4 separate regions of the Homo sapiens genome follow, and regions 1, 2 and 3 are each linked to region 4. Evidence: fine-mapped expression QTL. A gene starts in region 4. Each other region holds a variant in brackets. All regions are shown on one strand. Distances are from middle to middle. Region 1 holds the start of CNMD (chondromodulin). Region 2 overlaps LINC00345 (long intergenic non-protein coding RNA 345). Region 3 overlaps LINC00345 (long intergenic non-protein coding RNA 345). Region 4 holds the start of CKAP2 (cytoskeleton associated protein 2).

Region 1 (8,107 bases), 290 kb before region 4:
AAAAAAAAAAATCCAATACCCCCAACATCTTCCAGGTTCCTCTAACCTGCTCTGTTCGTTCAGTGCTGATGGGGAGTCTTGGCTCCTTCATGTTCTCCAGCCCCAAATGGTCGCTGCTCTTATAAATTCTTTCTTGTATTCCTCATACAACTGATATCAACTTCTCCCACACTCCCTAAGCCCTGCTGGCTCCTCCAGCCTCTTTGTCTCAGCAGATGGTCTTCTCGGCTTATTTACTGGCACTATCAAGTACAACATCTGCACTTGAATTTTCACAGCTCTTCAACTTAACATGTCCAAAACTCATCCGGTGCTTTCTACATCTACTCAGTTGTTTGTGCTTGATACATGAGGTCATCCTGACTTCCTCCCTCACTCACCTCACACTCAGCCAGTCTCCAGAGCGTGTTGATTCTACCTCCAGCATGGATCTGAAATCCTAATGGACTCCTTCGGATTAATATTTCTTCCCATCTATATCACTTACAATTATTCTAGTTCAGACCAACATCATATCTTGCCTGGACCACTGCAAGAGCTTCCCAAAAAGTCTGCCTCTGGGCCAGGTTCATTGGCTCATGCCTGTAATCCTAGCACTTTGAAAGGCCAAGGGAGGAGGATCGATTGAGGCCAGCAGTTCAAGACTAGTCTGGGCAACGTCACGAGACACTGCCTTTACAAAATAAATACATGTGTATATTAATTAATCAGGCATGGTGCATGCCTGTAGTTGTAGCTACTCAGGAAGCTGAGGCAGGAGGAAAACTTGAGCTCAGGAGTTCAAGGTTACAGTGAGTCTCTACACTCCAGCCTGGGCAACAGAGCCAGACCCTGGCTTTAAAAAATTAAAATAAGGTCAGGCGCAGTGGCTCACTCCTGTAATCCCAGCATTTTGGGAGGCAAAGGCGGGCAGATTACCTGATGTTAGGAGTTTGAGACCAGCATGGCCAACATGGTGAAACCCTGTCTCTACTAAAAATACAAAAATTAGCTGGGTGTGGTGGCGGGCGCCTGTAATCCCAGCTACTCGGGAGGCTGAGGCAGGATAATTGCTTGAACCCGAGAGGCAGAGGTTACAGTGAGCCGAGATCATGCCACTGTACTCCAGCCTAGGCAATAGAGAGAGACTCTGTCTCAAAAAAATAAAAATTAAAAATTTAAAAAAAAAAAAACTACCCCTTCTACTTTGCCCACTCCAGTTTGATTATTCTGCCCCACAGTGGCCAAAATGATATTTTTAAAATGCAAACCAGATCACACCATTCCACTGCTTTAAACCCCTCAATGACTTCCTGATACTGAGAGGAAATTTTTCAAAATTCTTAACATAGCCTAGAAGACTTTATTAGCCAAGGTAACTGTCTCTCTCTGTAGTGTCATCTCTGGCCATTCTTTCTTTTATTCTTTAAGATCTAGCTTTCCCTTTTTCCAATGCCAAACTCTACCATTTCATGGCCTTCTAACATGCTGTCCCTCCACATTTCCCACACCCTTTCACCCATCTCCACCTGGAAAATTCCCCTTCTCTCGGTTTTCAACCTAAATGACACTTCTTCAGGTGCTTTCCCCATTCCCCACTCAGGGTAAATTAGATGTTATATGATCTTAGTGTAGCCTATGTTTTTCCCTCATACTGTGTGTTACAAATGCAATGACATCATATTTTGTGATTACCTGCTTAATGACCATGTTTTCCACTATTCTATAAGCTCATCAAGAGCAGGGGCCATGTCTCATGTGCTCATTACTGTGTACCCAGACCTGGCACAGTGCCTGAGAGCAGAGTTGGGTTATAACTTCCAGGGAATGGGCCTACAGGTGGGCCCAGCAGCAGAGTGGGTAGAAGAAAGCAAGCCTGTGAAAGGGGGCACCCCTTTGATTTCATTCTTCACGAGTGTCTAAGTTCATTTTGTGCTGCTAAAACAGAATACCACAGGCCGGTTAATTTATAAACCAAGCTTATTTGGCTTATGGTTCTGGAGGCTGGGAAGTCCAAGAGTAAGGTGCTGTACCTGGTGAGGGCCTTTGTGGCAGAAGGTGGAAGAATGAGAGAACACATGCCCATGTGAGAAAGGGAAAGGGAGCCAAACTCATCCTTTTATCAGGAACCCACTCTCATGATAACTACCCCACTCCTGCAACAGTGGCATTGATCCTTTCACAAAGGCAGAACCCTCATGACCTAATCATCTCTTAAAGGTCCACCTCTCAACACTTGCATTGGGAATTCAGTTTCCAGCACATGAATTTTGAGAAACACATTCAAACCACAGCAATGAGCCTCCCAGTCTTGCTCCCTTACTGCTTTTTCTACTGCCTTTTCATTATCTATAACCATCATCATGTGAACACACTACCTTAAAATTGTTGAAAATATGCCACTTTAGGAGAATGTGCTCAGAGGAGGCAACTGATCTCCATACCCACTCCTCACCCCTCACGCCCTGGTCAGCTACTTTCTGTATATTATGTGTTAAAAATGTATGAATGAGGCAAGGTCTTGCATTTCCCCTGATTCCTCACCCTCTCTTCAATGTCTGTTTGGCCCCAAAGTATCCACTCACCACTCACTCCCTCCAGTCCTTCTCTCCTTCTCAAGGTTCATCAAGGGAAGGTGGTACCTTCCTTGATCCTCTAACTCCCCTCATCTAAAACTTCCTTACATTCATCCTTCTTCCCCTCAAGTTGAAAGTTGTTAAAAGAATTGTCTCCATTTGTAGCATTCACTTCCTCCCCACCTACTCACTGTTATTTAGTGCTTTATTCACTCAATTCCTGAATAGCTAATGCGTGTTCACAATATAGAATTCAAAACATTTCAGAAGGTTCACAGTTAAGCATCTTCTTTCTACTGGTCTCCCCAAGCTTCACATTTTCCTCAGAGGCAACCCCCACTACCAGCATCTTATCTTTCCAGAAAGCATATACTTACATTTATTCTTGTTTGTATTTCTTTATACAAATGGAAGCATTTCTACGCATTTTCTACCTTTTGCTTTTTTCACTTGAAGTATCTTAGAGAGTGTTCTATCTACATCACTACATCCAAAGCTGCCTCATTCTTTTAAAGGGCTGCCAAACCCCCACGGTGAGAATGGATCATAAATTGTCTACTCTGGACATTGAGTATATTACTAGTGCTTTGTTCTAACAAACATGCTGCAGTGAGCATCGTTGCACCTGCAGGATTTTTCCACCCTTGTGAGTGCATCTGTAGGATAAATCCATAGAAATGAAACTGCATTTTGCATTTTGGAATTAAATTGTTCTCCATAGAAGTTGTACCAATTCACCCACTACAGTAGTCCATAAATTCACTGCCCCTCATATTTTTCAACAGATTGTTTTAACAAGCGTTTTTATGTTTTTCCAGTCTCATAGGTGAACCAGTCTACTTTTAATTTGCATTTCCTTGTATGAATGCAGTTGTGGCCAGGCGTGGTGGCTCATGCCTGTAATCCCAGCATTTTGGAAGGTCAAGGTGGGCGGATCACTTGATGTCAGGAGTTCGAGACCAGCCTGGCGAACGTGGTGAAACCCTGCCTCTATTAAAAATAGAAAAATTAGTCAGGCATGGTGGCTGGCGCCTGTAATACCAGCCACTTGGGAGGCTGAGGCAGGAGAACCACTTGAACCTGGGAGGTGGAGGTTGCAGTGAGCCAAAATCGCACCACTGCACTCCAGCCTGGGCGATAGAGCAAGACTCTGTCTCAAAAAAAAAAAAAAAAAAAAAAAAAAAAAGGCAAAATAATGCTGTTGTTCATTCTTCTTACATTTAAGAGAAATTTCTACTTCTTGCTTCACCAACTCTCTGTTTCCATTCTTTGCCATTTTTTCTACTACATTTTTGGTCTTTTGGTTTTCCTAGGAAAACACTATATAAGAAAACTAGTTCCTTGTCTGTGGTATAAGTTGCAAATATTTTTAATCACTCTGTAACCCTTTGCAATGTGTCTTCTGTGCCCAGGGAAGCAAATGGAACTACTCTCTCGCTGGTTCCCATGGCCTCTTGGTTGTGCCCTTCCAAGGCCTTTCTCTGTGCTCATTTTTTTTCAGCATTTGACACTGCTGACCCACCCTTCTTGAATGTGCCTTTAAAATTACATGTACTACTTTATATTGTACCATCTCCCACCTCTCTGACAGTTACTTCTCTTATTCCTTCACCAAAATTCCTGTGAAGAATGCCCTTGTGAAAAGAGGTCTTTGAACTCTGCCTCAGCAGTGCCCCAGGGATGAGCCCTGGCTGGAGATCTTGCTGGAGTTTTTTCCAAGCACCTTAAGTCTAGTGTGATGTGCAGACAGCTGTTTCCATAGCTGATTCCAATGCAGGCTCAGGACATTTCCTTGGCTCTTTTACTTTTCATCCCCACATCAAGCT[C/T]AACATGTCTAAAACTGTTTCTTCCAATTTTTTCACTTCCCTAGGGTTCCTATCACTCTCCCAATCCTCCTAGGTCTGAAAACTCAGTTCCCACAGCCCAGGAATTGCCAAGTCCTATCGATTCTTCTGTGAAAGTGGTCTCCTCCACTTCTCCCCTCCTTCCCAGCCCCAGGTCATCATGCTTGTCACCTCATTCTTCATCACATGTCTTGGATGATTCTTCAACACTTTCTCCTTCTGCAGTCCTGCACATGCAATCTCCCGCTGCCCTTTGGGGAAGCCTCAATCCCTCTCATGCACTAGTGCTCCTCACTTACACCTCACCAGAGAGCTCTGCACAAAGCTAGAATCGAACGCAATTTAAGGAAGCCTGGATCCAAATGAAGTACCATGTATCCTGGAACTGGAAGATGGCATTTCCAAAAGTGAAAATTTTATATACATACATACATACACACACACACACACACACACACACACATTTGTGTTATTCCTTTGGATACATCAGTACTCTGTGTGTGTGTGTGTGTGTGTGTGTGTGCTTTGCCATTGTTGCTTTTGTTTGCACTTATTTAATTTATTCAACCAACCAGCATGCACTTTTATTCTGGTCTCCCCAACTCCTTCCCTCCAGCCCTGCTCTGCTTAGCTCTCACTTTTGCTGCAGTTGTACCCAGACCCTAGAAAAACTGGTGGCAAGGAGCCATCCCTAAGACCCTGCTCTGTTTTCCAGTCCCAGGGGCCATCCAGCAATGCCAGGCCAGTGAGAAGGTGGCCTAACCCTTACACTCTTAGGCCAGTGTCCCCTGTCCACCTGCACCACTCTGTTGTCTTCTCCTTCACCTTCCATGAGCCATCTTCCCCCCACCCCCACCCCAACACACACCTACAAAGACCCTGCAGGAAATGGCCTCCAGCCAGTTGTCACAGCAGAGCCCGCTGACATTCTAAGACATCCTCCGGTGCATGGCTAATTGCTCTGGCACTTGAGTATTTCTTTGGGTCCCAGGATTCAGCATCCCGCTCTGAGGGATGCAACCACCCCCACACATTCAGAGTCACCGGGATGCTGTTTGGGGGGCCAGTAGACAGGATAGAGTGAGGAGGAAAGGGGGCATCCGGGAGTGCAGGACGAGCTTCCCGCGGCGGGAGAGAGAAGGGAGGAGAGAGGTGAGGCGCTGGAAGGGGTGGGGACCGCTGGGCTGGCCCAGGCGGGACCGTGCACCGTGTGTGCGCGCGGCGTTGAAATGCCCTGCACGTCGGGGCAGCGGGACAGATCCCAGGGTGCCCAGGGAGTCTCCAAGTGCCTCACTCCTCCCGCCGCAAACATGACAGAGAACTCCGACAAAGTTCCCATTGCCCTGGTGGGACCTGATGACGTGGAATTCTGCAGCCCCCCGGTGAGTACCGCCAGGGATTCCACACGCAGGGCCTGGGTTGTGTGAGTATCAGGTTCCACAGTTCGGACTCAGGGGTGCGTGCCACCGAATGGGTGTGTTGGCGGGGGGATAAATTTGGGTCCCAAATGTGTGGGTGGGATGTCGCCCCACGCGTATGAGTGTGCAGGGGTCACGGCATCCACAGGCGGGTGCGGAGGGACGTCCCGTGGCCGGTAGAGGGTGCAGGTCCTGGGGCGAAGGCCCTGTGCTGCGGGGTTTGCTCATCCCACTTCCACGCCCGACTGCAAAGGACCCTCGGGAGGGAGCGCGGCGAAAGGGGCACCCGTAGGAGCCCGGGCGAGCTGTTTCCCGCCCGACTCCCCACTCCCTGGGGGCTACCGCGTGGGGCCCGGGTGCGCTGGGGGCCGCAGGTGCTGGCGGCACAAACGCGACGGTCCCTCTCCCGCCCCGGCCCGCAGGCGTACGCTACGCTGACGGTGAAGCCCTCCAGCCCCGCGCGGCTGCTCAAGGTGGGAGCCGTGGTCCTCATTTCGGGAGCTGTGCTGCTGCTCTTTGGGGCCATCGGGGCCTTCTACTTCTGGAAGGGGAGCGACAGTCACGTAAGTCCAGAGGGCGGCGCGCGGGGACCCCCGTGTCGCCCATGGTGCCCCTAGGGGGAGCCCGAGCGCGGGCCGGCGAGGGGCGCGCGGCTGCCGGCGGGCCCCTCGGGCCCAGCGTGAGCTCCCCTCTCCCATCCCACTCTGGCACGCGGCTTTCCGCCTTAGGTCAACGTTGTAGAAAAGCAAGTGAAGGTTTCACGGGAGAAGATTGAAGCGTAGAGTAGGGGAGAATGTAGTGGACGGTCCGAGAAAGGCCGTTCTCGGCTCATCTCCCACTAAGCAGTGGCGCGACCGTGGGGAAGGCACGTCACCTTTTGGCCTCAGTGTACTCGTCCTGAAGGGAAAAAATGGAACTGGACGATCTCTAAGGCCTGTCCCTGCTAAGAAAGGCTGTGGGTTTAAAATCCAGGACAAAGATAGTGGAGGAATATTCAGACCCATATTCAGACCCATTGGGAAGGAATTTTTGCCTTTCAGAAGGTTTTTTTGTGACCTAGCCATGAACATTCCCTTCTCTCTCTGGAAAACAAAAACAAAAAACAAACAAACAAACAAAACGTCTAACTTCCTTAAAGGTGGAAAATCTCTTTAACAATTAATTCTGGCCTAGTCATCACATGTGGTTTAATAGTAGGTGTTTTACTAACTGCTGTCCTACTTTCTTTGTATGCAACTATTTATTTTAAAGCTCCACGGCTCTCGAGGAGTATAAAGACTGTTTCTAAGTTGACTGGGCAGAGCTCCAGTGTGTTCTCTAAATACTCTGAAAGTGTTCACCTATGTAAAAGGGGGCATTTTATCTTGATGACCACTGCCAGGTCTGGTATAAGCTTATTTCAACTAATGGAAAAGAATTCCATCTCCAGGGCACACACAAAGGGCTCTTTCATAATCACTATCCTCAGAGGATTGGTGATTGCTGTTTTTTCCTCTCTCCTACCATGAAATGCAAAGCATGAACGAATTCCAGTACTTACAGAAAATGGTGCTGAAAGCAATTCAACCATTTTACACATCACGTCTTCTGCAGTCACTGCATAATTTGTATTTTTAACTCAAATGTCTAATGTAGATAAGCATGCCATTTAGCACCGAGTCTGTTTTAGAGACTATATCAAATTTACAAGCATCGATTTGTAAGATCAGAATTGCACTGTATTTTGTGGGTATTTGAAAAGTGCCTTAATGTATTTGTATTTTAAATATAGAAGCTGGGCCAGATGCTCATGTTTGAAACAGCAAATGTGAATAAGAGAATGATTTCAATATCTACATCTCCATTAATAGCAGGGTTTAGATTGTCATCTCTTTGGGAAATTCTGTGGTTTTAGAATGTAAATGCTATCTTTTAAATAACAAAGCCTCAATGGTATAGGTCAATGGGGGATAACAATAGCTATGCTTTTTTTTGGTAAAGATTCTGGACATGATATATTTTAAAATGAATACCATTTGTCATTTAATTATTCAAGGTAAACATCACTAACTGACAGGCTTCTAAAAAGAGAGATTAAACAATCATACTGAATAAGCACAGCTCCCTTTTTTCATATATTTTACTTTACTGCAAGATGGTTGGTTGTCTGGTTCAGGAGAGCAGTATTAAATGCTAAGAATTCAGAGGAATAGTGAATCACATTTTATTGTCAACAATCAAAATTATTGCTATATCCTATACAGACAGGAGAATGAAGAAAATCATGATAGTTTTTTTCTCCCTGATCCAT
Region 2 (8,086 bases), 100 kb before region 4:
CCCAGCTACTCGGGAGGCTGAGGCAGGAGAATGGCGTGAACCCGGGAGGCGGAGCTTGCAGTGAGCCGAGATCACGCCACTGCACTCCAGCCTGGGCGACAGGGCGAGACTCCGTCTCAAACAAACAAACAAAAAAGAATCATCCTATATCAGAAATCTATATTAATGTAATTTATCATATTCACAGATTAAAGTAGACATACCTTGCAATTATGTCAATTAATGCAGAGAAAGCATTAACTAAAATTCAACCTACAACTGTGACTTTAAAAATTAATAAAAACTAGGACACTTCTTTAACTCAACAAAGGGAATCTACCAAAACACCTACCAGGAACATCATATTAATGATGTAATATTGATAGCATTTTCTTTAAAGCCTGGAATTAAGCAAAAATGCCCTCTGTTCACTGCTTCCATTTAACAATGTACTGCAGAGCCTAGCCAGTGTAGTAAGTCCGTGTAGTCAGTAAATCTATAGAATAACTCATTAATCTAACGAGAGAGTTGAGAGAGTTTAGGAAGATCTCTAGATGCAGGCTCAACATAAACAAAAATTAATAGCTAAATCAAGGATTCAGGTTGAAATCTTTACAGTAATTACTAAAAAAATAGAAAAGGAGTATATAACTTCCAAGGCAATGGGAGAGAGTGAGAAGGAAAAAATTATCAAAATTCAATCAAACCAAAACACAAGTCAGTAAGAATATAGAAGAGTTAAATAAATTAACAAATGCACGTACATAGAACATTGTTCTCAACAATGCATAATACGTGTTTTTTTCAAGTGTACAGAAAACATTTAACAATATCAACCAAATTCTAGGCCATAAACCAAGTCTACACAAATTTGGAAGAAAAAAAAAATAGTATGTTCTGTGTCCACAGCACAATACAACCAGAAATAAAAAACTTTTTTTTTTTTTTCAGATGGAGTTTCGCTCTTGTTGCCCAGGCTGGAGTACAATGGTGTGTTCTTGGCTCACTACAACCTCCGCCTCCCGGGTTCAAGCGATTCTCCTGCCTCAGCCTCCCAAGTAGCTGTGATTACAGGCATGTGCCACCACACCTGGCTAATTTTTGTACTTTTAGTAGAGACGAGGTTTCTCCATGTTGGTCAGGCTGGTCTCGAACTCCTGACCTCAGGTAAACCACCTCCTCGGCCTGCCAAATTGCTGGGATTACAGGCGTGAACCACTGCGCCTGGCTTCACAAATAAAAAACTTAAAGATAAATGCAAAAGTCTCCTATGTTTGGAAATAAGGAAGTATACTTCTATACAACTCACGGGTCAAAAAAAAAAAAAAACACCAAGCACAGTGAAAATTGGAAAATAATTTGAACCCAATAAAATGAAAATATTACATATGAAAACTTGTGGGACGAAGCTAAAGCAACTCTTAGAAGAAAATGTATAGCCTTAAATGCTAAACAGAAAACAGAGTGGTCGACACTCTAAGAATTATTCATCTCAAGAAGTCAGGAAAAGAACAAATTAACCCATGGAATACAAAAGAAAATACTAAATATAATACTAATTCATGAAATAAAAAGTAAATAATAGAGTCCATTAGTAAGGCCAAAAATTTGTTATTTTATTTATTTATTTATTTATTTATTTTTGAGATGGACTCTCGCTCTGTAACCCAGGCTGGAATGCAGTGACGCGATCTCAGCTCACTGCAAGCTCTGCCTCCCGGGTTCATGCCATTCTCCTGCCTCAGCCTCCCGAGTAGCTGGGACTACAGGCGCCCGCCACCGCACCCGGCTAATTTTTTGTGTTTTTAGTAGAGACGGGGTTTCACCGTGTTAGCCAGGATGGTCTAGATGTCCTGACCTCGTGATCCGCCCGCCTTGGCCTCCCAAAGTGCTGGGATTACAGGCATGAGCCACCGCGCTCAGCCACATTTGTTACTTTTAAAAGACTAGTAAAATTGATAATTCCCTGGTGAGACTAATCAAAAGAAACAAAGGGAGAAGGCACCAAGAAAATAATGTAAGGAATAAAAAGGGAATGCCCCTGTAGACATTAAAATGGTAAAATGATATTGTGAATAATTTGATGCCAAGACATTCGCAAACTTAGATTAAATGGACAAATGCTGGGAAAACAATAACCTACCAAAACAGGCTAAGGAAATAAAATTAGAGAGAATTCTATATACGAAACTGAGCGATAATTTAAAAACTTCTCCCCAGAGAAAACTCTAGACAAATGTAGCTTCACTGGTGAATTTCACCGTACACTTAAAAAGAAAAAAAAAAACAGCACGCATAAATTCATCGAGGGAATAAAAAAAGAGAAAATAAAATCTAACTCATTTTATGAAGCCAAGATTTGAAAAAACTATGAGAAAGGAAAATTACAACCAATCACACTGGTGACATGAATTTGAAAATCCTAAACAAATATTAACAAATAGAACCCAGGAATTTAATAAAAAAAAGTTTAATAATTATTTAATAAAATAGTATAGCACAACTCAATCACATTTATTCCAGAAATATGTTGGTTTACCACTTAATCAATCATGTAATTAGCCACATTTATTTATAAGATAAAGGGGAAAAATTATCATCTCAAAGATTCAGAAAAATCTGGAAAAATTCAACATCCATTCATGATTAAAAAAAAAACTCTCTCAGCAAACTAAAGACATTGTTTTTTCTTTTCTTTTTCTTTCTTTTTTTTTTTGTTGAGCCAATGTCTCGCTCTGTCACCTAGGCTGGAGAGCAGTGGTGTGATATTGGCTCACTGCAATCTCTGCATCCTGAGTTCAAGCAATTCTCGTGCCTCAGCCTCTAGAGTAGATGGTATTACAGGCATGCACCACCACACCTGGTTAATTTTTTATTTTTTAGTAGAGATGGGGTTTCATCATGTTGCCCAGGCTGGTCTGAAATGATGTGCCCCACTGGGCCCCGCAAAGTGCTGGGATTACAGGCGAAAGCCATGGCGCCTGGCTAAGGAATTTCTTCATCTGATAAATGGTAGCTCACACACACACACACACACACACACACACACACACATGCTCGTAAAGCAATTGGAGAGACACTGAAAGCTTTTCCTTTGAGAATAGAAGTGTACACTGATGGCTGCTGTTGCCACTTCTAATTCAACACTGTACTGAAGGTTCTAGCCAGTGCTAGGGGGGAAAATGACTGAAAAGGAAAAAATACAATGTATTATTTTCACATGATATAACTGTGTACTATAAAATCCAAAAGAATCTATAGATAATTTAGTAGAACTAATAAGTGAGTTTAGGCTGGGCACAATGGCTCAGGCCTGTAATCCTAGCATTTTAGGAGGCAGAGGCTGAGGCTGGCAGATCACTTGAGCCCAGGAGTTTGAGACCAATCTGGGCAACATGGCAAAACCCCGTTTCTACAAAAAAATAAAAAAATTAGCTGGGCATGGTGGCACCTGCCTGCAGTCCTAGCTACTCGGGAGGCTGATGTGGGAGGGATTCCCTGAGCCCAGGGAGGTTGAAGCTGCAGTGAGCCATGATCGCATCACTGCACTCCCGCCTGGGTGACAGAATGAAACCCTATCTCAAAACACACAAACAAACAAACAAACAAAAAGTGAGTTTAGTCAAGTTGCTAAATACAAGATTAATGAATAAAATGAACTGCATTTAAATCAACAACATTTAGAAAATAAACATTTTAAAGGGATATCATTTAAATAACCACAAAATATCAAATATCTAGGAATAAATCTCATCAAAAATATGCAAGCTTTCTACACAGAAAATGAGAAAACATTGTAAAGAGAAATGGAAGGAAACCTAACTGAATGAGAGAACATCTCTCTTCATGGGTTGGATGGGTCAATATTGTAAAGATTCAATTCTCCCCAATCTATAGATTCAACGCAATTCCAAACAAATTTCTATCAGGTGTGTGTATTTGACCAGCTGACTCCCAAATTTTTTTTTTTTTTATACTTTAAGTTCTAGGGTACATGTGCACAACGTGCAGGTTTGTTACATATGTATACATGTGCCATGTTGGTGTGCTGCACCCATTAACTCGTCATTTACATTAGGTATATCTCCTAATGCTTTCCCTCCCCCCTCCCCCCACCCCATAACAGGCCCTGGTGTGTGATGTTCCCCTTCCTGTGTCCAAGTGTTCTCACTGTTCAACTCCCACCTACGAATGAGAACATGCGGTGTTTGGTTTTTTGTTCTTGCGATAGTTTGCTGAGAATGATGGTTTCCAGCTTCATCCATGTCCTTACAAAGGACACAAACTCATCCTTTTTTACAGCTGCATAGTATTCCATGGTGTATATGTGCCACATTTTCTTAATCCAGTCTGTCATTGATGGACATTTGGGTTGGTTCCAAGTCTTTGCTATTGTGAATAGTGCTGCAATAAACATGCGTGTGCATGTGCCTTTATAACAGCATGATTTATAATCCTTTGGGTATATACCCAGTAATGGGATGGCTGGGTCAAATGGTATTTCT[C/A]GTTCTAGATCCTTGAGGAATCGCCACACTGTCTTCCACAATGGTTGAACTAGTTTACAGTCCCACCAACAGTGTAAAAGTGTTCCTATTTCTCCACATCCTCTCCAGCACCTGTTGTTTCCTGACTTTTTAATGATCGCCATTCTAACTGGTGTGAGATGGTATCTTATTGTGGTTTTGATTTGTATTTCTCTGATGACCAGTGATGATGAGCATTTTTTCATGTGTCTGTTGGATGTATAAATGTCTTCTTTTGAGAAGTGTCTGTTCATATCCTTCACCCACTTTTTGATGGGGTTGTTTGTTTTTTTCTTGTAAATTTGATTGAGATCTTTGTAGATTCTGGATATTAGCCCTTTGTCAGATGAGTAGATTGCAAAAATTTTCTCCCATTCTGTAGGTTGCCTCTTCACTCTGATGGTAGTTTCTTTTGCTGTGCAGAAGCTCTTTAGTTTAATTAGATCCCATTTGTCAATTTTGGCTTCTGTTACCATTGCTTTTGGTGTTTTAGACATGAAGTCCTTGCCCATGCCTATGTCCTGAATGGTATTGCCTAGGTTTTCTTCTAGGGTTTTTATGGTTTTAGGTCTAACATTTAAGTCTTTGATCCATCTTGAATTAATTTTTGTATAAGGTGTAAGGAAGGGATCCAGTTTCAGCTTTCTACATACGGCTAGCCAGTTTTCCCAGCACCATTTCCCAGCACCATTTTTTAAATAGGGAATCCTTTCCCCATTTCTTGTTTTTGTCAGGTTTGTCAAAATCAGATGGTTGTAGATGTGTGGTATTATTTCTGAGGGCTCTGTTCTGTTCCATATCTCTATATGTCTATATCTCTGTTTTGGTACCAGTACCATGCTGTTTTGGTTACTGTAGCCTCGTAGTATAGTTTGAAGTCAGGTAGCGTGATGCCTCCAGCTTTCTTCTTTTGGCTTAGGATTGACTTGGCAATGCGGGCCCTTTTTTGGTTCCATATGAACTTTAAAGTAGTTTCTTCCAATTTTGTGAAGAAAGTCATTGGTAGCTTGATGGGGATGGCATTGAATCTATAAATTACCTTGGGCAGTATGCCCATTTTCACAATATTGATTCTTCCTACCCATGAGCATGGAATGTTCTTCCATTTGTTTGTAACCTCTTTTATTTCGTTGAGCAGTGGTTTGTAGTTCTCCTTGAAGAGGTCCTTCACATCCCTTGTCAGTTGGATTCCTAGGTATTTTATTCTCTTTGAAGCAATCGTGAATGGGAGTTCACTTATGATTTGGCTCTCTGTTTGTCTGTTATTGGTGTATAAGAATGCTTGTGATTTTTGCACATTGATTTTGTATCCCAAGACTTTGCTGCAGTTGCTTATCAGCTTAAGGAGATTTTGGGCTGAGATGATGGGGTTTTCTAGATATACAATCAAGTCATCTGCAAACAGGGACAATTTGATTTCCTCTTTTCCTAATTGAATACCCTTTATTTCTTTCTCCTGCCTGATCACCCTGGCCAGAACTTCCAACACTATGTTGAATAGGAGTGGTGAGAGAGGGCATCCCTGTCTTGTGCCAGTTTTCAAAGGGAATGTTTCCAGTTTTTGCCCATTCAGTATGATGAATGAACTTCTCTACACTGGTTACTCTAGTCAGCCATTCGTCTAATCTTCTTTCAAGGTTTTTAGCTTCCCTGCATTGGGTTTGAACTTCCTCCTTTAGCTCGGAGAAGTTTGATTGTCTGAAGCCTTCTCCTCTCAATTCTTCGAAATCATTCTCCGTCCAGCTTTGTTCCTTTGCTGGCGAGGAGCTGTGTTCCTTTGGAGGGGGAGAGGTGCTCTGATTTTTAGAATTTTCAGCTTTTCTGCTGTTTTTTCCCCATCTTTGTGGTTTTATCTACCTTTGGTCTTTGATGATGGTGACGTACAGATGGGGTTTTGGTGTGGATGTCCTTTCTGTTTGTTAGTTTTCCTTCTAACAGTCAGGACCCTCAGCTGCAGGTCTGTTGGAGTTTGCTGGAGGTCCACTCCGGACCCTGTTTGCCTGGGTATCAGCAGCGGAGGCTGCAGAACAACAAATATTGCTGAGCAGCAAATGTTGCTGCCTGATCATTCCGCTGGAAGCTTTGTCTCAGAGGGGTACCCGGCCGTGTGAGGTGTCAGTCTGCCCCTACTGGGCGGTGCCTCACAGTTAGGCTACTCGGGGGTCAGGGACCCACTTGAGGAGGTAGTCTGTCCGTTCTCAGATCTCAAACTCCGTGCTGGGAGAACCACTACTCTCTTCAAAGCTGTCAGACAGGGACATTTAAGTCTGCAGAGGTTTCTGCTGCCTTTTGTTTGATTCCCAAATTTATATGGAAATGTAGACGGCCTAAAATACACAAACAATTATGAAGAAAAAGATGATTGTCCTCACTTGACTGGAAATAAGGACTATTAGAAAGCTACAGTAAGATGGTTGTGCTATTGGCACACAGATGAAAAATCAATGAACAGAATAGAAAGGTCAGAAGCAGACTCATGTTCTGCAGGGAAGTAAAGAAATAAAAATCTTCTCAACCAGTGTGCTGGAATAATTGGATAGCCATATATGGAAAAAGATGAAACTTAACCTCTTCCTCACACCACACCTATAAATCAATTTTTAAATGAATGAACCATCTAGAAGAAAATATAGTAGTAGAATGTCTTTAAACTCAAGGAAAATTTTCTTAATCAGGACACAAAAACACAAACTTTATAAAGAGAAAGCATAATACCTATGATGGTAATACAACTAAGAACTTCTGTTAACCAAAAGATACTCCTAAGAGAGAGAAAAGGCAAATCACAGAGCAGAAAAGTTTTCTTGAAATACATATATGACCAATAACAGAATGGAAATCAGAATATATAAAAAACTGCAAATCAAGAGAAAAAAAGACAAATAATCCAGGAGAAAAATGGGTAAGAAAACTTAACAGTTACTTTACAAAAAAGGATATCCAAATACTTAATAATCTTAAGAAAACTTCTTCAATCTTATTAGTAATTATAGAAATGCAAATGAACACCACCATAATATGCCATCACACAAACACCCAATGGCTAAAAATCAAAATACTCAGAATTGCAAGTACTGGGGAAGATATGGAATGCTTCGAGTGTGCGATACCAGTGGAGTGAAAATTGGTACAACTGTTTTAGAAACAGGTGACATTATCAAGTATAAAGTTCAAGATTCATTACCTTAAGACAGAACCATTTTAGTCTGAGGTACATACTCAACAAAAATATGGCCACATATGCAACAAGAAACGTGTATTTTTAAAAGCAGCATTATTGGGCCAGGCGCAGTGGCTCACCCTGTAATATCAGCTCTTTGGGAGGCCGAGGTAGGCAGATCACTTGAGGTCAGCAGTTCGAGACCAGCCTGGCCAACATGGTGAAACCCTGTCTCTACTAAAAATACAAAACAGCCAGGCATGGTGGCAGGCGCCTGTAATCCCAGCTACTCCAGAGGCTGAGGGATGAAAATCACTTGAACCTGGGAGGCAGAGGTTGCAGTGCGCGAGATCATACCACTGCACTCCAGCCTGGGTGACAGAGTGAGACTCCGTCTAAAAAAAAAAAAAAAAAAAGCAGCATT
Region 3 (8,107 bases), 120 kb before region 4:
ACTTTCCATTTCCCCAATTCTGTTTTCACAAGGAAGCCCCGGAATTCCCTTAGCCTTGTCCTTTTCCTAGGGCAAGCTGTTCACAGTGGCTCTCCTTGAATCTATCTTCAAGGAGTTGAAGAGCTCTGGTACTGAATCAACTGGTTCAGAACTCAAAAGTTGGCTGCGCTGGTGGCTCACACCTGTAATCTCAGCACTTTGGGAGGCCGAGGTGGGCAGATCACTTGAGGTCAGGGGTTCGAGACCAGCCTGGCCAACAGGGTGAAACCCCGTCTCTACTAAAGCTACAAAAATTAGCCATGCGTGGTGGTGGGCACCTGTAATCCCAGCTACTTGGGAGTCTGAGGCAGGAGAATTGCTTGAACCCAGGAGGTCGAGGTTGCAGTGAGCTGAGACTGCACCACTGCACTCCAGTCTGGGTGACAGACAGATTCTGTCTCCAAAAAAAAAAAAAAGAAGAAGTACTCATAAGTTCATGGACTCTATCTTACCCATTGAGAAATGTTCATAGAAGTAACAAACTGCCATACTTTCCTTTAGAAAGGGCCAGTCATGAGGAAGGCTCATGAAAGTTCTTAACTTAGGAGTAGATGTAGTCAGTAGAATGGCCCACAATGCAGGATCAGAATGTGATGGTATCCGAGAATCACCACCAGACACAGAGGGCACTCTGTCCTGAGGTCTTGCCAACACATCTCTCAAATGTGCAGCTGAGACCCTGTGTTGCCTTCTCAGTCAATCAGAAGAGATTCAGTTGCAGCCTTTGGTGTGCTAGTTCTGGACTAAAGTTCGGGAAACTATGCATGACTACAGAAGAGATGGGGATGGGGAGACGTGTGGGGTGAGTTGCTGAAGGAGCTCTATCTAACATCTCCTTGGCTCCTGCCACCAGATTCTCCACCTTCCCCTAAAGGCTGTAACCTGCCAGGGCCCTCAAGCTGCTTTTGCTCCCATGCTTCTTTCTACTACAACTTAAAACAACATGGACTGGTAGTAGAAATTCATACAACCAACCCATAGGAGGTACTCACTACAAACAAAGAAGATATTATGAGGAAAGGGTGGAAAGATGGGTAAGCCATGGGCCTTGCCTTTAAAGGGGAAACAGAAGTCACCACTTCAAATAGCTAGAGAACAATGCAAAGTGATATCATCCCTAAGAGAAACACAAAGGGCTTTAGGAACTGAAAAAGCAAGAGACTACTTCAGGCTGGGAAGGGAAAGGGACTCTAGGAAAAGGGGCATGAGAAATGGCACGAGGGAATCAAGTGTCCATGGGCTGGGAAACAGCACACAGTCTAAATGTGTTAGAGTGTGGGATGTGTGCATGCACATAGTGGAAGAAAAGGTTGGAAAAGTCAAACTGTGGATCTTGAGTGCCAGGTTGAAACATTTAGTTTATTGCTACTGGCAGTGGGGACATACTCTGGATTTTGAGCATGGAAATGGCATGAGTAGGGCTGCACTTCAGTAAATCCACACATTCCTTTTCGCTTAGGGTCTATGACTGTTCTTTGTCTGGTTTTGTTTTTGGCTTGGGTGTGGGAGAAAAGTATCAGTGGATAAGGCTGAGTTCTTTTGCCCAAACTAAACGGGGACAGTAGTTAGTGTTCTTATAACAGGGCCAAGAGTACTTATTCAGTTCCCACCACCTAAAGAAAAACTCATTTACAGCCACATCCAAATCTATTTGAGAATTCCCAACCCACTCTCACTTCGGTTTGAGGGGCAATATAGAAAAGGCAATATAAATGAGAAGCTGTGCACAGCATGGGCTTCAGAGTCTGACATCTAGATTTCAGTCCTTGGTTCAAAAGTTAATTTCTCTGAACCTCAATTTTCTAATTTATAAGATGAGAATCATAGTAGTGCCTACTCATAGAGTTACTGAGAATATTAAATGAGATAGTGAATGTAAAACTCTTAGAATGGTTCAGCAAAGTCTAGAATGTTGTAAATGCTATACGATAAACATTCTGGTTTCTGCAGTAAACAAATTACAAGCAATAAAAAATGGCAAGAAATCTATGAACTAAAAGAGACTTAGGAGACATAGCGACCAAATGAAATGTGTGGATGTTGTTTGAATTCTGACTGAAACAAACTAAATTTTCAAAGATTTTAAGACAATTTTGGAAACAAACATGGACTAGAAATTTGATATTAAGGATTTTTAAGGTGTAATATTTCAGATATGATAAAAGTTATTAAGGGTTTTTTGTTGTTGTTTTAAGAGTACTTAGATGTCATACTAAAATACTTGTGGGATAAAATGATCTGATGACTGAAATTTCCTTCCAAATAATCCAGGTTTGGGGAAAGCAAGAGTGGAGAGTGGGGTTGGGGGTGTGAGTGGAGTGGGAAAAGTATGGATGAAACGTGGCCAGTTGCAGGCTGAAATGATTGTTGCAGCGAAGTGATGACTACATGGAGATATATTGTATGATTCTCTGGACTTTTGTATATGATTAAAGTTTTCCATAACGAAATTATTTTTAAAAGAAAAAACAGAGTAACAGCATATGTTTCATATAGGTGTTATGGGTTTTCAATGAGATATGTAAAAGTGCAGTACTGTCTGGTATATAAAAGGGTTTTTGAAAAGTTTATTTCCCCTTTTCTTTCTCTTTTAAAATACACCTCCCCCACCACACACACACACACACACACACACACACACACACACACACACACGGGAGTCACCCAAAAACAGTCTTTGTGATGTTCTGCAAGGGTTGAATTGCCCTAATAAGGATCTGTGAAAGACTTAGATCTTTTTTACATTGAAATCAAAGGCTGGTGATTTTAGATAAACTTCAGGGTCCTGGAGCCTTAGGTATTGGACTTTCCTGCTTTGGGAAAATAATCAACTCCTGAGCTCCGTAAACAATAACCAGTATAGAATAGAAAGCAGGATGCTCTGAGGAGAAGCCAGACCCCCCAACGTGTGGGTGGCACCTGAAGCATGACCCTTAGCATCAGGGAGGGACCAAGGCCTGTCGCAGGGTGCCCTAATGCTGCTGACTGATCACCAAAGGAGAAGAGTCTAAAATGAAACCAAATAACAGATGGCAATCTTAACCCACTCCCCTACAAAAGCTCCCTTTCTTAAAACGAAAACTTACCTGAGAAGGAGTTTCTACTCCCTGATATTTAGTGCCATTGGTTTTATCTGTTCGCCGTTCTCCAAAATAGTACAATCTTTCCTACAAAAAAGGAACCATGGTTCATCTGCACTCTTTCCTTTTCTATATTAGGTACCTTAGTCTTTCTAAAACCACCTTCTTTCCTAAAGTCAGTGATTTTTTTTTTTTTTATGGAGTCTCGCTCTGTCACGCACACTGGAGTGCAGTGGCAGAATCTCACCTCACTGCAACCTCTGCCTCGCGAGTTCAAGCGATTATCTTGCCTCAGCATCCTGAGTAGCTGAGACTACAGGCGTGTACCACCACACCTGGCTAATTTTTTGTATTTTTAGTAGAGATGGGGGCTTTGCCATGTTGGCCAGGCTGGTCTCGAACTCCTGACTCAAGAGATCCGCCTGCCTTAGCCTCCCAAAGTGCTGAGATTACAAGCATGAGCCACCGCGCCTAGC[C/T]GCAGTGGTCTTTTGGCAAAGGCTACCCAAATTACCAAAATTAACAAAGTCACATCAAAGACTTCTCTCATTCAAGGTTTCGTAAAGACATAAAAGTTTAGAGCTGGAAAGACCTTAGAAATCATCTGGTCCAACCCTTCTTTCCATCTTACAAATGAGAAGACTGAGACCAAAAGAAAACTACACAATCTGCCATGGAGATGCTGCAGCCAGTTAGAAGCAGCACAGGCCTGAAATACAAGTCTCTGGTTTTCAGTCTAGGGCTCTGTATCAGTGGCTTTCAAACTTTTCATTTTTTAAGTTGCAATCCACATTAATAAACCTCGGAGAAGTACACACACACACACACCAATACTTAAACCTTTTCAGATTTTCTATTCTGCTCTATTCCATTTTATTTAGTTTTAGCTTTAGTTTTTTTTTGTTTTTTTTTTTTGAGACGGAGTTTCACTCTTACTGCCCAGGCTGGAGTGCTATGGCCCGGTCTCAGCTCACCACAACCTCCACCTCCTGGGTTCAAGCGATTCTTCTGCCTCAGCCTCTCAAGTAGCTGGGATTACAGGCATGCACCACAATGCCCAGCTAATTTTGTATTTTTAGTAGAGACAGGGTTTCTCCATGTTGGTCAGGCTGGTCTCAAACTCCTGACCTCAGGTGATCCATCCGCCTCAGCCTCCTGAAGTGCTGGGATTACAGGCATCAGCCACCGCACCTGGCCGATTCCATTTTATTTTTAAGAGATGTTAGTCACAACCCAGTAACTTTATTTTACAACTCACTGATACATCATGATCCATAGCTTGAAAAACACCATCCTAGAACATCCATTTTCAAAATCTGTGTGTCTCAAATTAGAAAAACCAAAGGTGGTGGAATTAGAGTGCTGGGCATTGTGCAGAACCACCACTTCTTCCCTAGACTGTAGGCCAAACAACTCAAGCGGAGCTGCTGGAAATGGTAGCATCTCAGCAAGAAAATGGCAAAGAAAAATGACTGAGAACACTGCTGTAGGTGGAAACATCCCACCTTGTCTTATCAGAAATTTCTAGAGGCCACAGACTCCACATGTGTTGACTAAGCAGAGGTATTTACATGCAGGAGAGGCTTTGAGTTGTGAAATGTTGCCTTTTATCTACCTAAGAGGTGTGAGGATGGCCAAGGCCCTTTGGAGAATTTATCTAATTAAGCTTGATACTATTCTCATGAGGAAGGAAGAACAGCAGGGCCAGGTGAGGTGAGGGAACCATTGCGATTACTGAATGTTTTTTGTATCTGTGTAACATGGCTTTACTCCCCTCACCTTAATCCTGCCCCATCAGGTCTTGTCATTATTTAAAATGTTAATATTGTATACCTCATGGTTTTTTTGCATTAATTTTTATTTTTTAAATATTGCATGAAAAATCATTTATTTTAATTATTGCAATTTTTAGCATTCTCTTAAATTCTGCGCCTCATTGACCTCACTCTAGTCCTGGCCCAAAGAGATTCTTAAGCCAGCTACTAACCAGTGCATGTTAAACAAGGAAGTATCAAAAACAGACTTTTTAACAACCGCTTCTCCAATTACAATTTCACTAAGCACCATGACTAAAATAATCATCTTAACATCCTACCAGTGATGTTTCAGAACTAGCAAACTCAGTCATCCTAAGACAAAGTTTGTAGTAACATCTTTCATACCTCTGCAGTTAAAAATATTTCACTGGCAATCAGGCAGGCACAAACCATAGTTCCGGTTCTTCCTAGAAAAGAAAAGAAAAATTAGTTCAAGGAACATGCTTGGTATAAAAATACACTCAGAAATATTCCAGGAGTTCATTTTAAGTTGATTTTCTTTCTTTTTTTTTGGGACAGTCTCGCTGTGTCACCCAGGCTGCAGTGCACTGGCACGATCTCAGCTCACTGCAACCTCTGCCCCACAGGTGGAAAATAAATTACATTTACGGTAAAAATATTTCTCAACTACCTCTCCACGAAAGAACAAGATGAGGTTTTTACTAAATCTATTCGAAAGCAATAATTCATGTCTTATATAAATTCCTTTGGGTAACAGTAAGAAAGAAAAATTCCCAACTCATTTAGTAACACTAAAATAGCTGGTTCCAAAACTGCATAAATACAGTAGACGATTACTTTATACCAGTCTGACATATAAATGTAGATATAAAAATATATATATTTTTTCAAAGTGAATTCAGCAGTGTAGAAATACCACGTATCAATACCAAGTGCCATTTCTCTTAAGAATGCAAGGATTTTTTTCCAAGACGGCAGATTACAGGCTTTTAGCATGCCTCAGCCATTTGGAAATAGCAAGATAGTACATAAAGATCAACTCTGTGAACTTTAATTCAAGAAAGAAAACGACAACTCCCTGGAATTATGAAGGACACCCCAGATCCTTGGGAGGACAACGCAGGCAAACAGCTCTTGTGACAACATTCGACTGATAAAAGCGAGTGAAGCCTCAGTATGTGAGAGAGGCAGACAGCATCCCTCTGTCTTACCTTTCCACTGGGGATCCAAGCAACCCGGACCGAGGAGGGGCACTGTTTCTCCCAAGTCCTGGAGCTAATTTAACGAGAGACTTGGAGACTTTGTGAGGAAAGGACACAAGGAAAAGCTGCAGGCATTTTCCCAAACCTGGACTGAGAGCAGGACAACACTGGGGAACCTTCCCCATCTGGCTCCACCCATCTTCCTCCCACACCCCCACCTAACTCCCGTTCCCCTAGGGTTTAGGAGGGAGCTCAGATTAATGTGTACTCCAGGAATCAGCTCATTGCCTAAGGCAACAGAGAGCTCTTCCCAATAAACAAACAGCAAGTATATAGCCAGCACCACTGGCCACAGCCAGCTCTTACCCATCGCCGCCATCTACTGGCTTGTAGGTCAAACCACATACCCAATATAAAACCTGCTGATAGAAGTGCATATAGAAGCAAGGCCAAAAGACCTACCTAGCATTGCTCTAAAGTCACATCACCTAAGGAGGAGGGAAAGGGAAAGAATAATAATAATAATAATAATAATAATAATAATAATAATAATAATGATATAGGAAAGAAAAGATAAAGAAAAAATCCTACCCACATAAAAACAATTACAAAAATTAGAAGTGCTAGCATCTCCAGATGAGAAGAACCAGTACAAGAATTCTGGCACCATGAAAAACCTGCATGTAGTGATACCACCAAAGGATCACACTAGCTCTCTGGCAATGCTTTCTACCAAAATGAAAACTCAGAAATGACAATAAAGAATTCAAAGCATGGATTCCAGGGAAGCTCAATGAGATTCAAGGTTGAAATCAACAAAAGGAAACTTCTAAATCAATTCAGCAAATGAAGGAAGAGATAAACATCTTAAAAAGAAATCAATCAGAACTTCCGGAATTAAAAAACTCACTTAAGGAATTTCAAAATACAATGGAAAGATTTATCAATAAACTGGACCAAGTAGAGGACATAATTTCAGAGCCTGAAGACTGGTCTTTTGAACTAATGCAGTCAGACAAAAATAAAGAAAAACTATTTTTAAAAAGTGAGGAACGTCTTTGAGAAATAGGTTATGTGAAGTGACCAAACCTACAAATTACTGGCATTCCCTAGAGACAAGGAAAAAAAGAAAACAACCTGGAAAACATATTTGATGCAATCATTCAAGAAAATTTCCTGAATCTTGCTAGAAAGGTAGACATCTAGATACAATAAAGCCAGAGAACACCTGCGAGATACTATAAAAAAGTGGACATTACCAAGGCATATACCAAACAGTCCAAGGTCAACGTTAAAGAAAAAATCCTAAGGCCAGATCACATACAAAAGGAGCCCTATCAGGATAACAGCAGACGTCTCAGCAGAAACCTTAAAAATCAGGAGAGATTGGGAAGGTGTATTTTCAGAATTCTTAAAGAAAATAAATTCTAATCAAGAGCATCCTGCCAAACTAAGCTTCATGAGCGAAGGACAAATAAAGATCTTTTTTTCCAGAGAAGCAAGTGCCATGAGAATTCATTAAAACTAGACCAGTCTTACAAGAGATCCCTAAGGGAGTTCTAAACATGGAAATAAAAGAATGATACCTGCTACCATAAAAGCACACTTAAGTACACAGCTCACAGAGCCTATAAAACAACAATACAACAGAAAGTATAAAGCAACCACCTAACAATGTCATGATAGGGTGAAAAGCTCACGTCAATATTAACCTTGAATGTAAATAGTCTAAACACACCACGTAAAAGTCACAGAGTGGCAAGTTGGATAAAAAAACAAAACCCATCTGTCTGCTGTCTTCAAGACACCATCTCACATGTAACAACACCAACAGGTTCAACGTAAAGGGTTGGAGAAAGATCTCTCACACAAACAAAACACCAAAAAGAGCAGGGATCACTATTCCTAAAACAGATAAAACAGGCTTTAAACCAGCAATAGTAAAAAAGGACAAAGAAGGGCATTACATAATGATAAGGGGTTCAATTCAACAAGAAGCCTTAACAATCCT
Region 4 (8,107 bases):
CTTGAGCTCAGGAGTTCGAGAGCAGCCTGGGCAACACGGCAAAACCCCATCTCTACAAAAAAATAAAAAATTAGTTGGGTGTGGTGGTGGGTGCCATAGTCCCAGCTACTTGGGAGGCTGGGGTGGAGGACTGCTTGAGCCTGGGAGTTGAGGCAGTGGGCCAAGATCCCGTCACTGCACTAGAGGCTGAGTGACACAGAATGAGATCATCTCTCAAAAAAAAGAACGTTAGTTTCTAGGCGGTATTGCAAAGAAAATCCCTCCTCAAGAAACTGACTTAACTTATTTTTACAGCTATAAACTGGCTAAGGCAGACTGTGAGCATCTCTTAGCAAGTGATTTTAACAATTTTGTGTACTATAACGATAGGAAAAAATACGGTCAATTAGACATGCCATTGATTTTAAGACAGATCCTAAGTTCAGAGATCACATTAAAATGCGTGATCTCTCATTCTCTGAAAAAAAAAATGAGGCCAGGAACAGTGGGTCACACCTGTAATCCTAGCACTCTGGGTAGAGAAGGTGGGCAGATCACCTCAGGTCAGGAGTTTGAGACCAGCCTGGCCAACACGGCGAAACCCTGTCTCTACTAAAATCAAAAATATTGGCCAGGCATGGTGGCAAATGCTTGTAATCCCAGCTACCCTGGAGGCTGAGGCAGGAGAATCGCTTGAACCCACGAGGCAGAGGTTGCAGTGAGCTGAGATCGCGCCACTGCACTATAGCCTAGGCGACAGAGCAAGGCTCCGTCTCAAAAAAACAAAACAAAACAAAATATATATATATATATTTTACATTTGACATAATTTAGTAGTTAATAATTTTGCTTACATTGCCTTTCATATCTATTTGTTCTGTCAGCTTGGAGAAGGAACAGAACTTTGACACAACCTGTACTATACATTTTGAACAATGGTGAAGGAAGATCAAAATGTGCCACTTAACAGGGTATCTTAGTAGCTAACTGCCAGCTAACAAAACAAAACTCAGGATGACAAGAAGAACCCATCTTACTCACCTGTCCAGTGGGGAGACTTAATCCTATTCTGTCTTATTATAAAACTGCCCTCAGAAGGGTTATCGGAAATGAGTCTTAGGATATCTATACTTTAGAGATTGTAAAATATAACTGTTTAATTCTGAAAAGCTGCAACACAGGTTGGTTGTCTTATTTAATGATTCACTGCTGAGGTGATAACATTTAAATTGACATCTGTTTTCCTTTTTTTTTTTTTTGAGACAAAGTCTCGCTCTTGTCACCCAGGCTGGAGTGCGATGGCCTGATCTTGGCTCACTGCAACCTCCGCCTCCCAGGTTCAAGCGATTCTTCTGCCTCGGCCCTCCCCGGAATTACAGGCGCCTGACACCACACCCGGCTAATTTTTATATTTTTAGTAGAGACGGGGTTTCACCATGTTGGCCAGGCTGGTCTAGAACTCTTGACCTCAAGTGATACACCCGCCTCAGCCTCCCAAAGTGCTGGGATTACAGGCATGAGCCACTGCACCCAGCCAACATCTGTTTTCTGAAAGGAATAAATGTAGTACTTAAGCCACATGAAGCGTTTTAGAATTTTCTTTTCTTCCTATTAAGAGTATTATAAACCCCTGACCTTGTTGGATTCTTTATTTAAATAAGTGGTTGAGAGTCACTGTCTGAATCCATATTATCTCTACTTATTCCCTAGTAATTTCATTCCATCCTAAGGTTTTTAAGTAAATATCATCTGTATACTAATCAATTCCTGAGTTTATGCTTCCAGCCCCAACCCCTCCCCTGAACTTCAGACACACAATTATTTGGCATATCTGCTTGGATGTCTGGTTGGTACCTCAAACATAGTCAAAACAGAACTCCTAATTCCCCAGCTCCTCCTTCAGGCTTCCTATTTCAGTATACGGTTATCACCATTCATTTACTTATTCAAATAAAAAACCTAGGATCACCTTTTTGTCTTAAACAAAGAAATAAAAGATTTATTTGTGAAGGATAAACTGTTTATTCCAAACTAAAGCAACTTATTAATATAAAGTTAGAAATTATTTTTAAAATTTTAGAATGCCAAACTTACACAAAGTTGCAAAAATATAAACAGGTCAAAGAATATCTGTACACTCTTTACCCAGGATCCACCTATTGTTAAAATTTTTATCCCATTTGCGTTATCATTTCCACTCTCTGAATATGTGTGTGGGTGGTATATACAATTTTGTTTACCTGAGACAATTTTTTTTTTTTTTGAGACGGAGTCTCGCTCTGTCACCCAGGCTGGAGTGCAATGGCACGATCTCGGCTCACTGCAACCTCCATCTCCCAGGTTCAAGCGATTCTCCTGCCTCAGCCTCCCCAGTAGCTGGGATTACAAGCACCCACCACCATGCCTGGCTAATTTTTTGTATTTTTAGTAGAGACGGGGTTTCACTGTGTTAGCCAGGCTGGTCTTGATCTCCTGACCTCGTGATCTGCCCACCTCAGCCTCCTAAAGTGCTGGGATTACAGGTGTAAGCCACAGCACCCAGCCTAAGCCTGTAAGGATGTTATTACTGGTTATCCCTAGAGAGTGAGGGGACCTTTTGCCTTTCTGCTTCATCTACTTTCATGGGTTTTTGTTTTTGCTACAGCTATGTACTATCTAAGATATTTTAACAAAATAATAAAGATATTTCTGTGGAGGGTTGAGACTACAACTAGTAATCTCTAAGCATTTGGGAGGGCCACCCAACCCTTCCCTGATGAACTCCCCCATACACTGAGTAAAAAGCTTTGCTAAATAATAGAAAGACTGACCTTTGTGTGGTGTAAACAGTAAGTTGATAATCTAGTCTATGCACATACTTTGCTTTATAATTGTTTTTTTCTCTTAGACTGTGAATTAATTTACGTAGAAAACGATAATCTAGGCCGGGCGCGGTGGCTCATCCTTGTAATCACAGCACTTTCAGAGGCTGAGGTGGGCGGATCTCAAGGTCAGGAGTCCAAGACCAGCCCGGCCAACATAGTGAAACCCGGTCTCTGTTTAAAATACAAAAATTAGCAGGGAATGGTGGCACTTGCCTGTAGTCAGTCCCAGGTATTTGGGAAGCTGAGGCAGGAGATTCACTTGAACCCAGAAGGTGGAGGCTGCAGTGAGCCAAGATCACGCTACTGCACTCCAACCTGGCAACAGAGTGAGACTCTGTCTCAAAAAAAAAAAAATTAATAAAACGATGATCTAATGCTGCACCATCCAATAAAGTAGCCACTAGCCAATGTGGCTACTGAGTGCTTGAAATGTGGATAGACCAAATGGAAATGTCCTGTAACTGTAAAATAGACACCAGATTTTAAAGACGTTGTACCACAAAAAGACGTAAAATAATATGTAAGCAGTTTTTCTAAATGTGGCTACTAGAAAATTTAAAATTACAGATATGGCTTACTTTACATTTTCATTGGACAGATCTGATACAATTTTACAGAAGTGAAAAGAAATAAACTTGACCTTACCTGGATAACATCTCATTTTCCTGCTTGTATGCAAAAAGCGTTTTTCTTCTCAACAGATGTTCCTTGAGTTTTTGTCTTCTTTGCTCTAGATAACAAAGGTAAGAGCTACAAGTCAATATTAGTTAAAACATCGATAACGGCAAATAAATCTTGTTGACTAAATGAAGAGTTTACTTCCAAAGCTGGTTCCACCTGAGGTCACATCTATATAACAGAAAATTCTCCAATTCAATATTGCCTTTGAGAAATCACCTTAGAAGAGACTGTTACCACAACAGGTCCCCAAAACCCCTCTGCATAAGAATCACATTCTCTACTCCCTGTGAAAAATCTGGAGAACATCATTTTCTACATACAGCTCCTGCTAGCCAAGCTTTAAGAAACTAAATGGTAGAAGTGAGGCACTAGACTCGAAAGTTCTAATTTACCAGAACTGGGTTAGATGAGAATTACTTTCTTCTGCTTTCCCGTGTGTAGAATAAGGGAATAACAATATTAGTTTTGAAGACCCAACCAACCCTCGGTTTCCATAAAGTCGAAGGAGAAGCTGTGAAATTGGAAATAACACATGATGCGACCCCAGCCCTGCAGAAATTCGCTAGGGACCTAAGAGGCGGAGGACCCAGCGCAGGCGCAGTCGGTCCCTGAACCTGTGCAGCCCCGCCCCCAAGCGGACCCAGGGTCTCCGACACCGACCCCGGCCTGAGGCCCGCGCGTTTCCCCTCGCCTAACGGATTCCTTCTTAGGAGGGCCCATCCCAGCCAGCAGCGACCGCACAGTAACACCACGCAGCGGTTCCTGTTTTTATGATCCGTTCCACAAGGCCAAGAATGAGGCAGGGCGAGGCCGACGCCGCGTTCAGGGATCTCACAGAGCGGGGGAGAGGTGAAGCGCGCCAGCGCGGCCCCGAGCCCCGACCGCCGGGCCCGCGCCCGCCACCGCCACCGCCACCGCCACCGCCACCGCCACCGCGGCCTTCACCTTTGAATGCGGACTGCGCCCTCTGACTCGGGGGCAGCTGCAGGTCCTGGGGCACGGCCGGTGTGCTCATCGTAGCCTCGGGTCGGGGGATGCGTCTCCGCTTTAGCGCCAAGATAGAACTTCCTCAGACCACCGCCGCCGCAGTCTGCACCGCGGCTAAGCCGTCAGACGGCGCGGCTGCCGTCTCCGCCCATTGGTTCCTGCGTGAATTGAATAAGCCAATGGGCGTAGGGAGGCGGAGCCTGGACTGCAGTTGCCGGGGCCGGTCTGGTGTCTGCCCAGTTCGGTTGGGACTGAGTCTGCAGGTTTCAAACCTAAACAGCGCTCTTCATCCTGGACGTGCGATGGGGGAGGAGTCGGCCTGCTCAGTCCCCACGACATAGCAGGACTAGGTTGACAAACAACCGAGATGGGACACATCTTGAGACCCTCACAGTCCTTGGAGGAAGGCAGACGAGAAAAAGACAAGAAAAGTGTTGATTGGCTGCCCTTCTTATTAAACATCGACGCGTTCACTGACGAGGACGTAAACACCGATCTGGCGTACCACGAGCGTGTGTATTTTCGTTTCACAAATACTGCTTCATTTTGAGCATCAATTCTGAGGTGGGACGTTATCACCACTTTTTCCACTGAGAGGTGACAGGTTCAGAGGTTGTTTGTCCACGTTTGCACAGCGTGTGAAGGGGAACTGAAATTGGGATCTACTTTCCATACCTTTATTCTAAGCAATTATCAAATGCAAAAAAGGGAGGAGAGGAGGAGAAACAGAAAAAAATGAAGATAAACCTCATCCCCTCCTCAAGGTTATATATAATTCTCCTTTGAAGATAAAATAGCATTTGTTACAGACGTTTTGTGTTTGTGTGGTTAAGTGTGCCGCCATAATCTTCGTTTTTCTCATCTAAAAATACCACCTTCATAAAACCCACACAAACACTCAATCCACATGACAGAACGAAACAAGTCAGGGCTAGAAGGTTTTAAGAGTGGCAGTGGGGAAGTGAGGGCGAGTCTGGACTGCACCTGCCTGGTTTCAAGCACTGGGTTTACATTTCTTGCCTGATCACTGCAGTAAGGCTGGACTGGACTCTTTCAGCCAGGTTTTAGGTGCTCCGGGCACACAGACGGGAGGATGTGATTTCCCCGTTTACCCTTCCCAGGTCTGAGGGCCTCCACAGCTGGCCCTCGGCTGTGGTCAGTTTTTCCCACTTCTGCCTGCTTTTTTCTTCAGACATCTTATGGTAGCGTCTTGCTAATGAGGAATTTGGTTTGAGATTTTGTGTAGTTTTTTACTTGATGAAATGTCCCAGTTTTAGTTTAACATTGTCCATCACCATCCTTAAGATATAACTTGCTGTTTAAATACGTCTGTCATTATTGTTGATTATTTACTAAAGTTTCATCAGACAGGTGGGGCAACCAGGGATTTCTATTAAGTGAGAACAAAATACAGCGTTAATAAGTGACTCAAAAACCTCCAAAACATTATGCTAAGTAAAAGAAGTAATATATGAAAAGTTACATATGGTATGATTCCATTTATATGAAAGATCTAAAATAGATACATCCATAGTGAAATAACTCAGAATAGTAGTTGCCAGAGGCTGAGGGTAGGGGGAGAATTGGGAGACAGTTTAATGGACAAGGGTTTCATTACCTTGAAGTAAGTGAAATGTTTTGGAATTAGAGGTAGTGGTTGGGTGACATTGTAAATGTATTAATGCCATTGAGTTGTTCACTTTAAAATGATTAATTTTATGTTATGTGAACCTCAATAATTTTTTATAAGTGGGCATGGTAAAAAAAGAAATTGACTCAAAGGATACCATGGAGATCTCAGTAGGCTGAGATGAATAGGAAAACCTGCCAAACTGCTAGGTTTTTCAAAATGGCAATTCTCCTCTAATCTCCAGACTCACCCACTCCAATGATATGTCTATTTTTGAGACACTTTTTAATATTACTGCTACACAATTATTGCAGAGAAAGCAGACCTTTTTCTAAAAGATCCAAAAAACAAACAAAAAAAACAAAACAAAAAAGATTTCCTTTCAGAACAGTTCTTTGCCAACACAGCTGACCATGAAACTGCAGGCACCTGGAGTACTGATGATTAATTAGTGTTAGTCGTTCCTCCTGTGGTCATGTGAAGAAGGTAAAGTGCCTGTGAGAGAACAGGGAAGGACAATCTGAAAGTTAGGAGGACAATGGGGACACAATGGGGTCACAAAGTCTGGGGAAGAGAGAAGCTGAAGAAAGAGGTAATGGACCACAGTGTTGGGCACTACAGAGGTCCAGTAGGATTGGGACTGAAAGGAACCATCTGATTCAGAAGGTGGGAGGTCCTGGCAAAAACATCCTGGGGATGGCTGGGCGTGGTGGCTCATGCCCGTAATCCCAGCACTTTGGGAGGCCAAGGCGGGTGGATCACCTGAGGTCAGGAGTTCAAGACCAGCTTTGCCAACATGGTGAAACCCTGTCTCTACAAAATATACAAAAGTTAGCCAGGCGTGGTGGCAGGCACCTGTAATCCCAGCTACTCGGGAGGCTGAGGCAGGAGAATCGCTTGAACCCAGGAGTCAGTGGTTGCAGTGAGCCGAGATTGTGCCATTGCACTCCAGCCTGGGCGGCAGAGTGAGACTCTGTCTCAAAAAAAAAAAGCATAGACCTAAATGTAAGAACCAAAACTATGAAGCTTCTAGAAGAAATTATAGGAGAAAATCTTAGTGACTTTGTGTTAGGCAAAGATTTCATAATCAGTATCAATATCTGGTTTGTGGAAAAAAGATTTCTTAAATAGGCAAATTCCATGAACTATGAAAGAAAAAAATACACTGAACTTCATAAAAATTAAAACCTTTTGTCTATTCATTTATTGCCATATATAAGCCACATGACGTTTCTCCTTGCTCCAGCCTGGATACAGGAAACCCTTATACGGTTGTCTATCCCAGCAGCTATCATATGCCAGGCTTCTATTTGTGTCCTACAGACTGTACATCCCTCAAGGGCAGAAAACATACCTTGCAAATGTCCTCACTGCCTAACATGTTGATAATTGCAAAGCCCAGGCATAACTGCACAGTTCCACATCTGATTAGGATGCTTAGGTCACATTACTTTCAATTAAAAAAGACTAAAAAGTTGGTAAACAATCAAATGCTCAAAAATCAGGCAATGATGGTAAATTGTGATATATATTGATAGCATATTACAGCAAATCAAATGTTTTCAAAGAACTTTTGGTTATTGGGTATATGGTCATGATGGAAATTGAAAGATATGAAATACAGAAGACACTGTTTAGAAATAGACCAAAATACACACAGGATTTTGGAACACGGTAAAAGTAGCAATTCATTTCGGGGGAGAGATGGCTTATACTCATTGGAAAGAGCCTTTCCTTTCTTTTAATGCCTAGCCACAGACCACTGACTCCACGACTGGGGGAAATGTGGAGCCCTGGGGGCAGAGAGCAAGCCTGCCCTCTGTCCCTCTGCCCCTGTGCCCCTCTGCCCACGTGGGCACGCAGCCTTAGTTAAGACCCCAATAAGTGGTAGGCTCTCTAAAATGTGTTCACAACCTTTAAAGCAGTCATTCTATTTTAGGAAGACACTGTAAGAAAATAATCCTAA

What was found. PIP is the estimated chance that this variant, and not a neighbour inherited with it, causes the effect.
Region 1: its variant is fine-mapped to the expression of CKAP2 in prefrontal cortex (GTEx, PIP 0.95).
Region 2: its variant is fine-mapped to the expression of CKAP2 in whole blood (TOPMed, PIP above 0.99).
Region 3: its variant is fine-mapped to the expression of CKAP2 in skeletal muscle (GTEx, PIP 0.93).

The regions. Positions count from the first base shown.
Region 1 is chr13:52,737,304-52,745,410 of GRCh38, reverse strand. It overlaps CNMD (chondromodulin), which reads left to right and starts at 5,591. Exons shown (of 7, transcript NM_007015.3): 1 at 5,591-5,781; 2 at 6,240-6,380. The coding sequence starts at 5,710. RefSeq lists an enhancer at 7,520-8,021. The variant C/T (reference allele first, on the strand shown) is at 4,382.
Region 2 is chr13:52,556,522-52,564,607 of GRCh38, reverse strand. All of the region lies in intron 2 of LINC00345 (long intergenic non-protein coding RNA 345), which reads left to right. It also overlaps the pseudogene TPTE2P3. Among named protein-coding and RNA genes, the nearest start is that of LINC00345, 40 kb to the left of the region's middle. The variant C/A (reference allele first, on the strand shown) is at 4,485.
Region 3 is chr13:52,568,465-52,576,571 of GRCh38, reverse strand. The region is part of intron 2 of LINC00345 (long intergenic non-protein coding RNA 345); the gene reads left to right. It also overlaps the pseudogene TPTE2P3. Among named protein-coding and RNA genes, the nearest start is that of LINC00345, 28 kb to the left of the region's middle. RefSeq lists a silencer at 6,395-6,454 and an enhancer at 6,384-6,678. The variant C/T (reference allele first, on the strand shown) is at 3,596.
Region 4 is chr13:52,451,989-52,460,095 of GRCh38, reverse strand. It overlaps CKAP2 (cytoskeleton associated protein 2), which reads right to left and starts at 4,618. Exons shown (of 9, transcript NM_018204.5): 1 at 4,470-4,618; 2 at 3,489-3,573. The coding sequence starts at 4,539. It overlaps CKAP2-DT (CKAP2 divergent transcript), which reads left to right and starts at 4,750. Exons shown (of 1, transcript NR_185890.1): 1 at 4,750-5,321. RefSeq lists enhancers at 4,918-4,997, 5,288-5,467.